Homo sapiens: one gene and its partners. The protein of the gene in region 2 purifies or fractionates together with the protein of the main gene of each other region. This does not show direct contact. Each region holds a gene or a part of one and is shown on either strand. Other genes may lie near its edges.

The links.
Region 1: the proteins of FLYWCH2 (region 2) and RTF2 fractionate together in Homo sapiens (co-fractionation; one large-scale study listed by BioGRID). This does not show direct contact.
Region 3: the proteins of FLYWCH2 (region 2) and CCM2 purify together in Homo sapiens (co-immunoprecipitation; one large-scale study listed by IntAct). This does not show direct contact.

What each region holds. Positions count from the first base shown.
Region 1 is NC_000020.11:56,478,524-56,482,175, reverse strand, and holds part of RTF2 (replication termination factor 2), read right to left. Parts: intron 1-3,652. UniProt on the Homo sapiens protein: Replication termination factor which is a component of the elongating replisome. Required for ATR pathway signaling upon DNA damage and has a positive activity during DNA replication.
Region 2 is NC_000016.10:2,886,148-2,889,799, forward strand, and holds part of FLYWCH2 (FLYWCH family member 2), read left to right. Parts: intron 1-3,652.
Region 3 is NC_000007.14:45,059,159-45,062,810, reverse strand, and holds part of CCM2 (cerebral cavernous malformations 2 protein), read right to left. Parts: intron 1-3,652. UniProt on the Homo sapiens protein: Component of the CCM signaling pathway which is a crucial regulator of heart and vessel formation and integrity. May act through the stabilization of endothelial cell junctions. May function as a scaffold protein for MAP2K3-MAP3K3 signaling.

The DNA of each region.
Region 1 (3,652 bases), on a different chromosome or scaffold from region 2:
CCATACACAAACTAATCCAATCATCAATTTCAAGTGTGGAGGCTCTTATCAATAACAGATGGACAAAGTCAAAATAAGCAAAGCTCAATTCACTGGGTAAGAGAAAAAGGAGAAGAGACTGACCAGCAAACCAAAGGAGAAACAACAGGGGAAGCCACAATCAGAGCAACAGGCTGCAGGGGACTCCTACTCGAGACCCCATTGTGGAGCTCGTTTCTGCTAAGTTCCTCTTCTGGGGTGAGCTAGTTTTCTTAAAAGCAAGTGGGAAGCCAAACACGAAAGGTTACATATTGTATGATTCTATGCATATGAAATATCCAGAAGAGGTAAATCCATTGAGACAGAAACAGACTGGCAATGGGGAGTACCTATGTAATGGGCAGAGGATTTTCCTTTTGGGGTGATAAAAATGTTCTGGAACCAGATAGAGGTGGTGACCGTACAACACTGTGAATGTACTAAATGCCACTGAAACATACACTTTAAAATGGCCAATTTTATGTGACTTTCACCTGAAATACAAACATATACATACGTGTGTGTATATGTGTGTGTATATATATATGCAAACACACACACATACACACACATATACAGAAGTGGGACATGGTTAGGTAAATGAGTCTGGTTCCCCAGAATATGTCTTACTTGACCCCAATGGTGGTTTAAAAGAGAGCCCTAAGCGGTTTAAATTCAGATTATTTGAAGAAGAGTGTAATATTTAAAAGCAAAAGGTCCTTGGACCCTAAACTGTACTTCTCTCCAAATCCATGAAGCCCCTCGTTGTTCCATTTCAGAACAGGACAGTTAGTTCCCCTCGCACAGTCTGCCACACGCAACACGGCCTGGCACACTGAGAGGGTGTCCATGTACACCTGTTAAATAAACAGACGCCAATGTGCCAGAATGCTCAGGATTAAATACTGCTGTTTAAAGTTCAATGAAACCATTTTTACTTACTCGAGATGCTTTGCCCCACCCCTTTCCTGAATGAAAGTAATAAAAAATGCTACCTTTCAGTATGTTGTGTGTTTAACAGAAGATTCCAGAGGGCAGTCTGGACTACCAGCTATTAAGGATATAGGCATACCTTGTTTTATTGCGCTTTGCAGATATTGTGATTATTTTAGACTGAAGGTTCACGGCAATCCTGCATCTGGCAGGTGTGTCAGCATCTTCCCAGCAGCATGTGCTCACGTCATGTCTCTGTGTCACATTTTGGTAATTCTCAAATATTTCAAATGATTTCATGATTACTACATCTGTTACGGTGATCTGTGCTCAGTGACGTTTGATGTTACTTTTGTAATTGTTTTGGGGTGCCAGGAACAACACTCTTATAAGATGGTAAACTCAATTAATAAATGTGTGTGTTTTGACTGCTCCATGAACTGGCCATTCCCCCATCTCTCTCCTTCTCAGTTCTCCCTATTCTCTGTGACACAACAATATTGAAATTAGGCCAATTGAGAACCCTACAATGGCCTTTAAGTGTCCAAGTAAAAGAAGAATTGCATGTCTCTCACTTTAAATCAAAAGCTAGAAATGATTAAGCTTAGGGAGGAAGGCAGGCCCAAAGCCAAAACAGGCCAAAATCCAGCCTCTCAAATCAAACACTTAGCCAGGCTGTGGATGCAAAGGAAAAGTTCTTGAAGGAAATTAAAAGTGCCACTCTATAAACAGATGAATGGTAAGAAAGTGAAACAACCGTATTGCTGATATGAAGAAAGTTTTAGTGGCCTGGACAGAAGATCAAACTAGCCACAGTGACAGATCCTTAAGCCAAAGCCTAACCCAGAGCAAGGCCCTAACTCTCTTCAATTCTATGAAGGCTGACAGAGGCAAGAAAGCTGCAGAGGAAGAGGTGGAAACTGGAAGAAGTTGGTTCATGAGGTTTAGGGAAAGAAGGCGTCTCCATAACATAAAAGTGCAAGGTGAAGCAGCAAGTGCTGATGGAGAAGCTGCATTAAGTTCTCCAGAAAATCTAGCTAAAATCATTAATAAAGATGGGTACACTAGACAACAGATTTTTAGTGTAGATAAAATAGCCCTGTGTTGAAAGAAGATGCTATCCAGGACTTCTACTGCTAAAAAGGAGAAGTAATGCCTGGATTCAAAGCATCAGGACAGGCCGACTCTCACTAAGGTCTAACGTGCCTGGTGACTTTCAGTTGGGCCAATGTTCATTTACCGTTTGGAAACCCTAGGGTTCTTAAGAATGATGGTAAGTCTACTCTGCCTGTACTCTCGAAATGGAAGAACCAAGCCTGAATGAGAGCACATCTGTCTATAACATGGCTTACGGAATATTTTAAGCCCAGCGTTGAGACTTACTGCTCAAAAAAAAAAAAAAAAAAGATTCCTTTCAAAATATCACCGCTCATTGATAATGCACCTAGGTCACGCAAGAGCTCTGATGGAGATGTACAAGATTAAAGTTGTTTTCATGGCTGCTAACACAACAACCATTCTGCAGCCCATGGATCAAGGTGGAACTTTGACTTTAAAGTCTTATTTAAAAATACATTTCATAAGGCTATAGCTGCCATAGGCTTCCTCTGCCATTCCTCTGATGGATCTGGGCAAAGTAAATTGAAAACCTTCTGGAAAGAATTCACCATTCTAGATGTCATTAAGAACATCTGTGATTTGGCCCGCTGTGGTGGCTCACACCTGTAATCCCAGCACTTTGGGAGGCTGAGGCAGGCAGATCATCTGAGGTCAGGAGTTTGAGACCAGCCCGGCCAATATGGTAAACCCTGTCTCTACTAAAAATATAAACATTAGCTGGGCACGGTGGCGGGCACCTGTAATCCCAGCTACTCGGGACGCTGAGGCAGCAGAATTACTTGAACCCAGGAGGTGGGGGTTGCAGTGAGCCGAGATTGTGCCACTGCACTCCAGACGGGGCAACAGAGCTGGACTCCGTCTCAAAAAAACAAAAAAACAAAAAACAAACAAAAAAAATCTGTGATTCATGAGAGGAGGGCAGAATATCAACATTAATAGGAGTTTGGAAGAAGCTGATTCCACCCCTCATGGACGACTTGGAGGGGTTCAATGCTTTAGTGGAGGAAGTAACGCAAATGTGGTAGAATGGCAAGAGAATGAGAAAAGTGGAGCCTGAAGATGACTGAATTACTGCAATCTCACGATAAAACCCAAATGGATGAAGAGTTGCTTCTTATGGATGAGCAAAGAAAGTGGTTTCTTGAGACAGAATCTGCCCATGGTGAAGATGCTGTGAATATTGTTATGATAGATTTGAAATATTACATAAGCTTAATTGATAAAGCAGTTGCAGGGTTTAAGACAACTGATTCCAATTTTGAAAGAAGGTCTACTGTGGGTAAAATGCTATTAAACAGCATCACATGCTACATACAGAGAAATCTTTCATGAAAGAGTCAATCAATGCAGCAAATTCTATTGCTGTCTTACTGTAATACACTGCTACAGCCACCCGAACCTTCAGCAACCACCATCCTGATCAGTTAGCAGCCATCGACATCAAGGCAACATCAAGGCTCCACCAGCAAAAAGATGATGACTCGCTGAAGGTTCAGGTGATTGCTAGCATTCTTTAGCAATAATTTTTAATTAAGATAGGTACTTTGTTTTTAGACATAATGCTATTGCACACTTAAAAGAC
Region 2 (3,652 bases):
TGTTTGGAGCCTTTGCCCATTATTATTATTATTGTTATTATTTTTTTTTTTTAGACGGAGTACCACTTTGATGCCCAGGCTGCAGTGCAGTGTAGTGCAGTGGCGCCACCTCGGCTCACTGAAATCTCCACCTCCCGGGTTCAAGCAATTCTCATGCTGCGCAGCCTCCTGAGTAGCTGGGATTACAGGCATGTGCCACCATGCCACCAATCCAAAAAAGAAAATAATTTTTGTATTTTTAGTAGAGACAGGGTTTCACTATGTTGTCTAGGCTGATCTCGAACTCCTGACCTCAGGTGATCCTCCTGCCTCAGCCTCCCTAAGTGCTGGGATTACAGGCATGAGCCACCACGCCCTGCCCCTTTGTCCTTTTTTTTTTTTTTTTTTTTTTTGAGGCGGATTTTGCTCTTGTTGTCCCGGCTGGAGTGCACTGGTGCAATCTCAGCTTACCGCAACCTCCGCCTCCTGGGTTCAAGCAATTCTCCTGTCTCAGCCTCCTGAGTAGCTGGGATTACAGGCATGTGCCACCAAGCTTGGCTAATTTTGTATTTTTAGTAGAGACAGGGTTTCTCCATGTTGGTCAGGCTGGTCTCGAACTCCCGACCTCAGATGATCCACCTGCCTCGGCCTCCCAAAGTGCTGGGATTACAGGTGTGAGCCACCATGCCCAGCCGCCCATTTTTAAATTGTTTGTTTGTTTGCTTGTTTATTACTGAGTTGTAATAGTTCTTTATAAATTCCAGATACAAGTCCCTTATCAGATATATGATTTGCAAACATTTTTTCCCATTCTATGGGTTATCTCTTAACTTTCAAAAGTTTTATGGCTAAAACACAAAACTCTTAAACTTAGTTGAAGTCCAGTTTATTTCTTCATTGGTTGTTTGTGCCTTTCATTATATTGAAGAAAGCTTTGCCTAATCTAAGGTTATGAGAATTTAGTTTTTCTTTTAAAAAAAAGTTTTATTACTGTAGCTCTTGTAATAAACTATAATTTTTTGTTTTTTTGTTGTTTTGAGACAGGATCTCACTCTGTTACCCAAGCTGGAGTGCAGTGGTGCAATCTCGGCTCACTGCAACCTCCGCCCCACTGGCTTAAGCAATCCTTCCACCTCAGCTTCCCAAGTAGCTGGGACCACGGGTGCACACCACCATGCCCGGCTTTCTTTTTTTTTTTTTTTTTTTGTATTTTTAGTAGAGATGAGGTCTCGCCATGTTGCCCAGGCTAGACCTGAACTCCCGAGCTGAAGAGATCTGCCCACCTCAGCCTCCCAAAGTGCTAGGTTTATAGGCATGAGCCACCATGCCTAGCCATATAATTTATTTAGAGTTAATTTTTGTATATGCTGTGAGGAAAGCATACAACTTCATTCTTTTGTATTGGATATTCAGTGGTCCTAGCATTTAATGTTTGTTTTTATTATTATTATTATTATTTTTTGAGACAGAGTCTTGCTCTGTCACCCAGGCTGAGGTACAGCAGCACAATCACAGCTTACTGCAGCCTTGACCTCCCAGGCTCAAGCAACGCTCCCACCTCAGCCTCCCAAGTTGCTGGAACTACATATGTGCCCCACCACCCTGGTTAATAATATTTTTTTTAGAGATGAGATCTCACTATGTTGCCTAGGCTGGTCTGGAACTCCTGGGTTCAAGCGATCCTCCTACATCACCCTCCCAAAGTACTGGAATTACAAGCATGAGCCACCACGCCTGGCCCAACATTTGTCGTTAAGACTATTTTCCCTCCACAGAACTGTCTTGCCACCTTTGCTGAAAATCAGTTCACCATATATATAAGAGTGTATTTCTGGACTCTCAGTTCTATTCTGTTGATCTCTGTGTCTGTGTTTTGTTTGTTTGTTTGTTTGTTTTTTAAGAGGTGGAGTCTCGCTCTGTTGCCCAGGCTGGAGTGTAGTGGCGTGATCTCGGCTCACTGCAACCTCCGCCTCCCGGGTTCTAGCAATTCTCCTGCCTCAGCCTTCCGAGTAGCTGTGACTATAGTTGCATGCCGCCACACTCGGCTAATTTTTTGTATTTTTAGTAGAGACGGGGTTTCACCATGTTGCTTATGCTGGTCTCAAACTCCTGAGTTCAGGCAATCCACCCACCTTGGCCTCCCAAAGTGCTGGGATTACAGGCATGAGCCACTGTGCCCGGCCTGTGTCGGTCTTTATGCCAGTACCACATTGTATTGATTACTGTAGCTTTGTGATAATATATTTTGAGATAGAGATGTGTCAGTCCTGCAAGTTTTTTTTTTTTCAAGATTGTTTTTGCTATTCTGGGTTCCTTGAATTTTCATATGAATTTTAGGACCAGCTTGTCAGTTTCTCCAAAAAAAAAAAAAAAAAAAGCCAGCTGGAATTAAGAATCTATAGATCAATGTCAGAAGTGTTGTCATCTTAACAATATCAAGTCTTCCAATCCATGAACATGGGATGTCTTTCCATTTGTTTAGGGCTTCTTTAATTTCTTTCAACAATGTCATGATCTTCTTGGGGAACCTGAAGCCCAGTAGGTGCTCCAGTCCTGTGGGCTGACCAGCTTGACCAGCTAAGCCTCTTATCCTGGAGGAAGTCCCAGGACTGGCTTCTTCTTGGCTACCTTGTCCTCCAAATGGAGAGTATGAGGAGATCTTCATAACCTTCACTTCTCTGAGATTCTGTGGAATTATTTCTCTGCAGCTTCATGAGCTAGAGCAAATATCATGGTTTTTAAGAGCAGAAGTAACTTTTTAAGTTAAAAAGTCATGGAAGCAAATTTATTATTGCACTACTTAGGAGGTGTGCATGGGACTAATTGTAGAAAAGAAATATTTGTCATTTTTGAAAATGAGGTATTAAACACTATGATTAACTGAAATTTGATATTCAGAAAAGTATCACTTGTGTTTTTCCAGAACGCATAAAAATGATTCATAAAACACAGTTCCTACCAGGCAACCTTTGTCAGGGCCATTTTGCTCAAAATTTGGTGTTTTTTTGTTGTTGTTGTTGTTGTTTGTGTGTGTGTATACATGTGTATACAGTCATTTTTCAATCTGTTCTTCTAACCTTTACTTTTTTTTTTTTTTTTTTTGAGACGGAGTCTCGCTCTGTCACACAGCTTGGAATACAGTGGCCCGATCTTGGCTCACTGCAAGCTCTGCCTCCCAGGTTCACGCCATTCTCCTGCCTCAGCCTCCCGAGTAGCTGGGACTACAGGCGCCTGCCACCATGCCCGGCTAATTTTTTGTATTTTTAGTAGAGATGGCATTTCACCGTGTTAGCCAGGATGGTCTCAATCTCCTGACCCTGTGATCCACCCGCCTCAGCCTCCCAAAGTGCTGGGATTAGAGGCGTGAGCCACTGCGCCCGGCCAACCTTTACTTTTAAAGAAAAAGCACTAGGAAAGACTATATTAAAAAAAAAAAACAACCTGAAAAAGAGCAAAGTTGCTTATGCTGGGTTTTCTGTGATAAAATAGTTAATGTTTTGGGTCATATTAATGCAGCTAGCTACTTACCTTTAAAAAAAACTTTTTATTTTGGAATTATTTTAGCTTTATAGAAAAGTCCGAGAGGCAGTACAGAGTCCCTATAGATCTTCCCCACCCCCAGCTTCCCCTCATGTTAACATCTCATATAATAAATTATTGTTGGTACAAGACT
Region 3 (3,652 bases), on a different chromosome or scaffold from region 2:
CTATCACACAGGCTGGGGTGCAGAGGCGTGATCTTGGCTCACTGCAACCTCTGCCTCCCAGGCTCAAAGCAATTGTCCCACCTTAGCCTCCTGAGTAGCTGGTACTACAGGTGTGTGTCACCACGCCTGGCTAATTTTTGTAGAGACAGGGTTTTGCCATGTAGCCCAGGCTGGTCTCGAACTCTTGGACTTAAGCAATCTGCTCACCGCAGCTTCCCAAAGTGCTGGGATTACAGGTGTGAGGCACCATGCACAGCCTAGAAATATCTATTCATTATAAATTTCCCAGTCTGTGGTATCTGTTATAGCAGCACAAAACATTTAGTAAAAAGGTTTTTTTGGTCACACATGGCCATGAGGCACTTGGCTTAGCAAACCTCCATAATGCAGGGCCTCAGGTGTAGAAGGCTGTGGGCAGCAGCACTGTACCTGCTGTGCTCCTGCCTGCATCTTACCAACCACCATAACATTTTCAATGTTTCTGTTTTTTAAAATGGGTTGCTGATTCTTCCCAAGAACAGGCTTCTTGCACTCAACATTTCTCAGTTGTTCATTACCTCACACAGTTAAGTTCTCTATTAAAAAAGAATGAAATGGGACTTTCCAATTTCCTGTCCAGCTTGTAAAGGCTCAGAAGTCATCACTCCCATCCTCACAACAAGAAAGCTGGCAAACTTAAAATCAATGACTGTTCTCAGATCCATCAGATAATTGAGGTCACATGAAAAAACAATAACCCCAAAGATGGAGAGACAGATATGCAATGCTAAGAATCACAGCTCATTGCGGGGCAGAAACCCTAGAGCCAGCACCAGCAGAGAGGAAAGGGGAACTGACAAATGGCAGAGACTGAGCATGGACCAGTAGGAGACAAAAACTCCAGGGGAATAGTCACTGGGGAGGTCCCCATACCAGTCTGAGTTTTACCTCCATGAGCCCCACCAGGCTCTCAGGGTGAGACTGGAGAAACATCTCCTCATACTCTGGTAGGAGGAGGGAAGAATACATCATTTAAAAGTATAACCAGGCCAGGTGTGGTGGCTCATGCCCATAATCCCAGGACTTTGGATGGCCAAGGCGGCAGGTTTGCTTGAGGCCAGGAGTTTGAGACCAGCCTGGGAAACATGGTGAGACCCTATCTCTACAACAAGAACAACAACAGCAACAACAACAACAAAATAGTTGGGCACGGCAGTGTGCCTGTGGTGCCAGCTACTCAGGAGGCTGAGATGGGAGGATCATTTGAGCCCAGGAGGTTGAGGCTGCAGTGAGTCATGATGGTGCCACTGCACTCCAGTTTCCCAACCAACATATAAAGGGCTCAGAGGTCATCTCAAAAAAAAAAAAAAAAAAAGAAAGAAAGAAAGAAAAAGGCATGACCAGAGCATTCTGTTATCCTTAACAAAGGGCTTTCCTCAAGGAAAACTATTTTACCAGAGCCTAACCACCTAGGGGTAAGGAAACACCCAATTCCTGCCTCCTCTATCGTTTATGTCTCTCCTAAGGGGGAGGAAAAAAACAAAACTGAGAAGCACATGTGAAGGCCACGGCCCAGGGACACAGGTTCACTAAAACACTGAGACCTAATCCCAGGACTACAGAACACTTCCTCTCCCCTGAAAGCCACATCAACAGGACCCCTGTGTAATAACAGGGATGCACACCTATAAGAACTGCAGGCCTCAGACTCTATTTAAGAAGGAATCTTGAAGAAAACCCAAAAACAATGGAAGACAAAAACAAGGATACACAGGAGATTTTTATCCCCCAGCATCACAAGGGCAGCAAACAGTAAACACAGCCCAACTCCCAGCCAGCCAAACGTACCTCACACTAAGGCCTATTAACCTGACGCCTAAGTTCCTCATATCAGAACCAGACTCAGACATAGTGGAGATTTTGGAACTACCAGATTGGGAATTTAAAACAACTACGATTAATATGGTAATGGCTCTAACGGAAAAAGTAGACATCATGTAAGAACAGATAGGCAGCATAAGCAGAGATGGAAACCCTAAGCAACAATCAGTAGGAAATGCCAGAAAGCAAAAGTCCTGTAACAGCAATGGGGACTGCCTTCAACAAGCTCAAGAGGCTGGACACAGCCAAGGAGAGACTCTCTGAGCTTAAGAATACGTCAACAGAAACTTCCAAACATGAAAAGCAAAGGGAAAAAAGAACGAAAGAAAGAAAACAGAATATGCAAGAACTGTGGGACAGTTACAAAAAGTGTAACATATGTGCAATGAGGATATCAAGAGAAAGAAAAGAACACAATAACTATTTGGAGTAATGAGAGCTGAGAAGTTCCCCAAACTAATGTCAGACACCCATCCACAGATCCAATAAGGTCAGAGAACATGAAACGGTAAAAAGCAGGTAATTTACACTGAGGCAAATCACATCAAACTGCAGAAATCAAAGACAAAAAGAAAATTAGAAAGGAAGATTCTCTCTTTGCAGAAATCTGGGAATTTTTTCCACAGGAAAAAAACATCCTACCTATAAAATGGCAAGAACAAGAATGACACTGGATTTCTCTTCAGGAACCATCCAAGCAAGAAGAGAGAGGAGGGAACTATTTGATTCTGTATCCAGTGAAATTATCCTTCAAAAGTGAAAGAGAAATAAAGATTTTTATCAGAAAAACAAAAACTCAGGGATTTAACATTTCAAGAAAAGTTAAAAGAACTTCTTCAGAGAGAATGAAAATGATTTGGTCAGAAACTCTGATCTATGTAAAGAAGGGGAAAAGCATCAGAGAAGAAATAAATGTAGGTAAAATTAATCTTTTATTTTTCTTATTTTAATTGCTCTAACACATTAACAATTTGTTCAAAATAAAATTTGTGTATTGGGTGACTGTAGCCTAAGGATAAATGAAATAAATGACAGCAATGTTATAAGCAGTGGGAGGAGTGAACTGGGAATACTTGGTTACAAGGTATTTGCACTACCTGTGAAGCAGCACAGCATTATTTGAAAGTGGATTTTGATTAGTTGTGAATGTATATTGCAAACCCTAAGGCAACCACTAAAATAAATATATATATATACACACATACACATTTTTGAGACAGGGTCTTGCTCTGTTGCCCAGGCTGGAGTGCAGTGGCACAATCACAGCTCACTGCAGCCTCAACCTCCCAGGCTGAAGCGATCCTCCCACTAGTAGATGAGACTACACGCACATGCCACCAGGCCCAGCTAATTTTTGTATTTTTTGTAGAGACAGACGGGGTTTTGCCATGTTGCCCAGGCTGGTCTCGAACTCCTGAGCTCAATCAATCCGCCCGCCTCGGCCTTCAAAAGTGCTGGGAATACAGGCATGAGCCACCGCACCCAGCCTGTATTTTTTGTTTTTTCTTTCTTTCTTTCTTTTTTTTTTTTTTAACAGACAGGGTTTCGCCACATTGCCTAGGCTAGTCTCAAACTCCTAGGCTCAAGTGATCCTCCTGCCTTGGCCTCCCAAAGTGCTGGGATTACAGGCATGAGCCACCATGCCTGGCCAAAACTTTTAAACAAAAAATCAGCAAATTGAATCCAATAATGTATTAATAATTATACACCACGACCAGGCAGGATTTATCCCAGGTGTGCAAGGCTAATTCAATGTTCAAATATCAATCGTAGCGGGGGCAGTGACTCATGC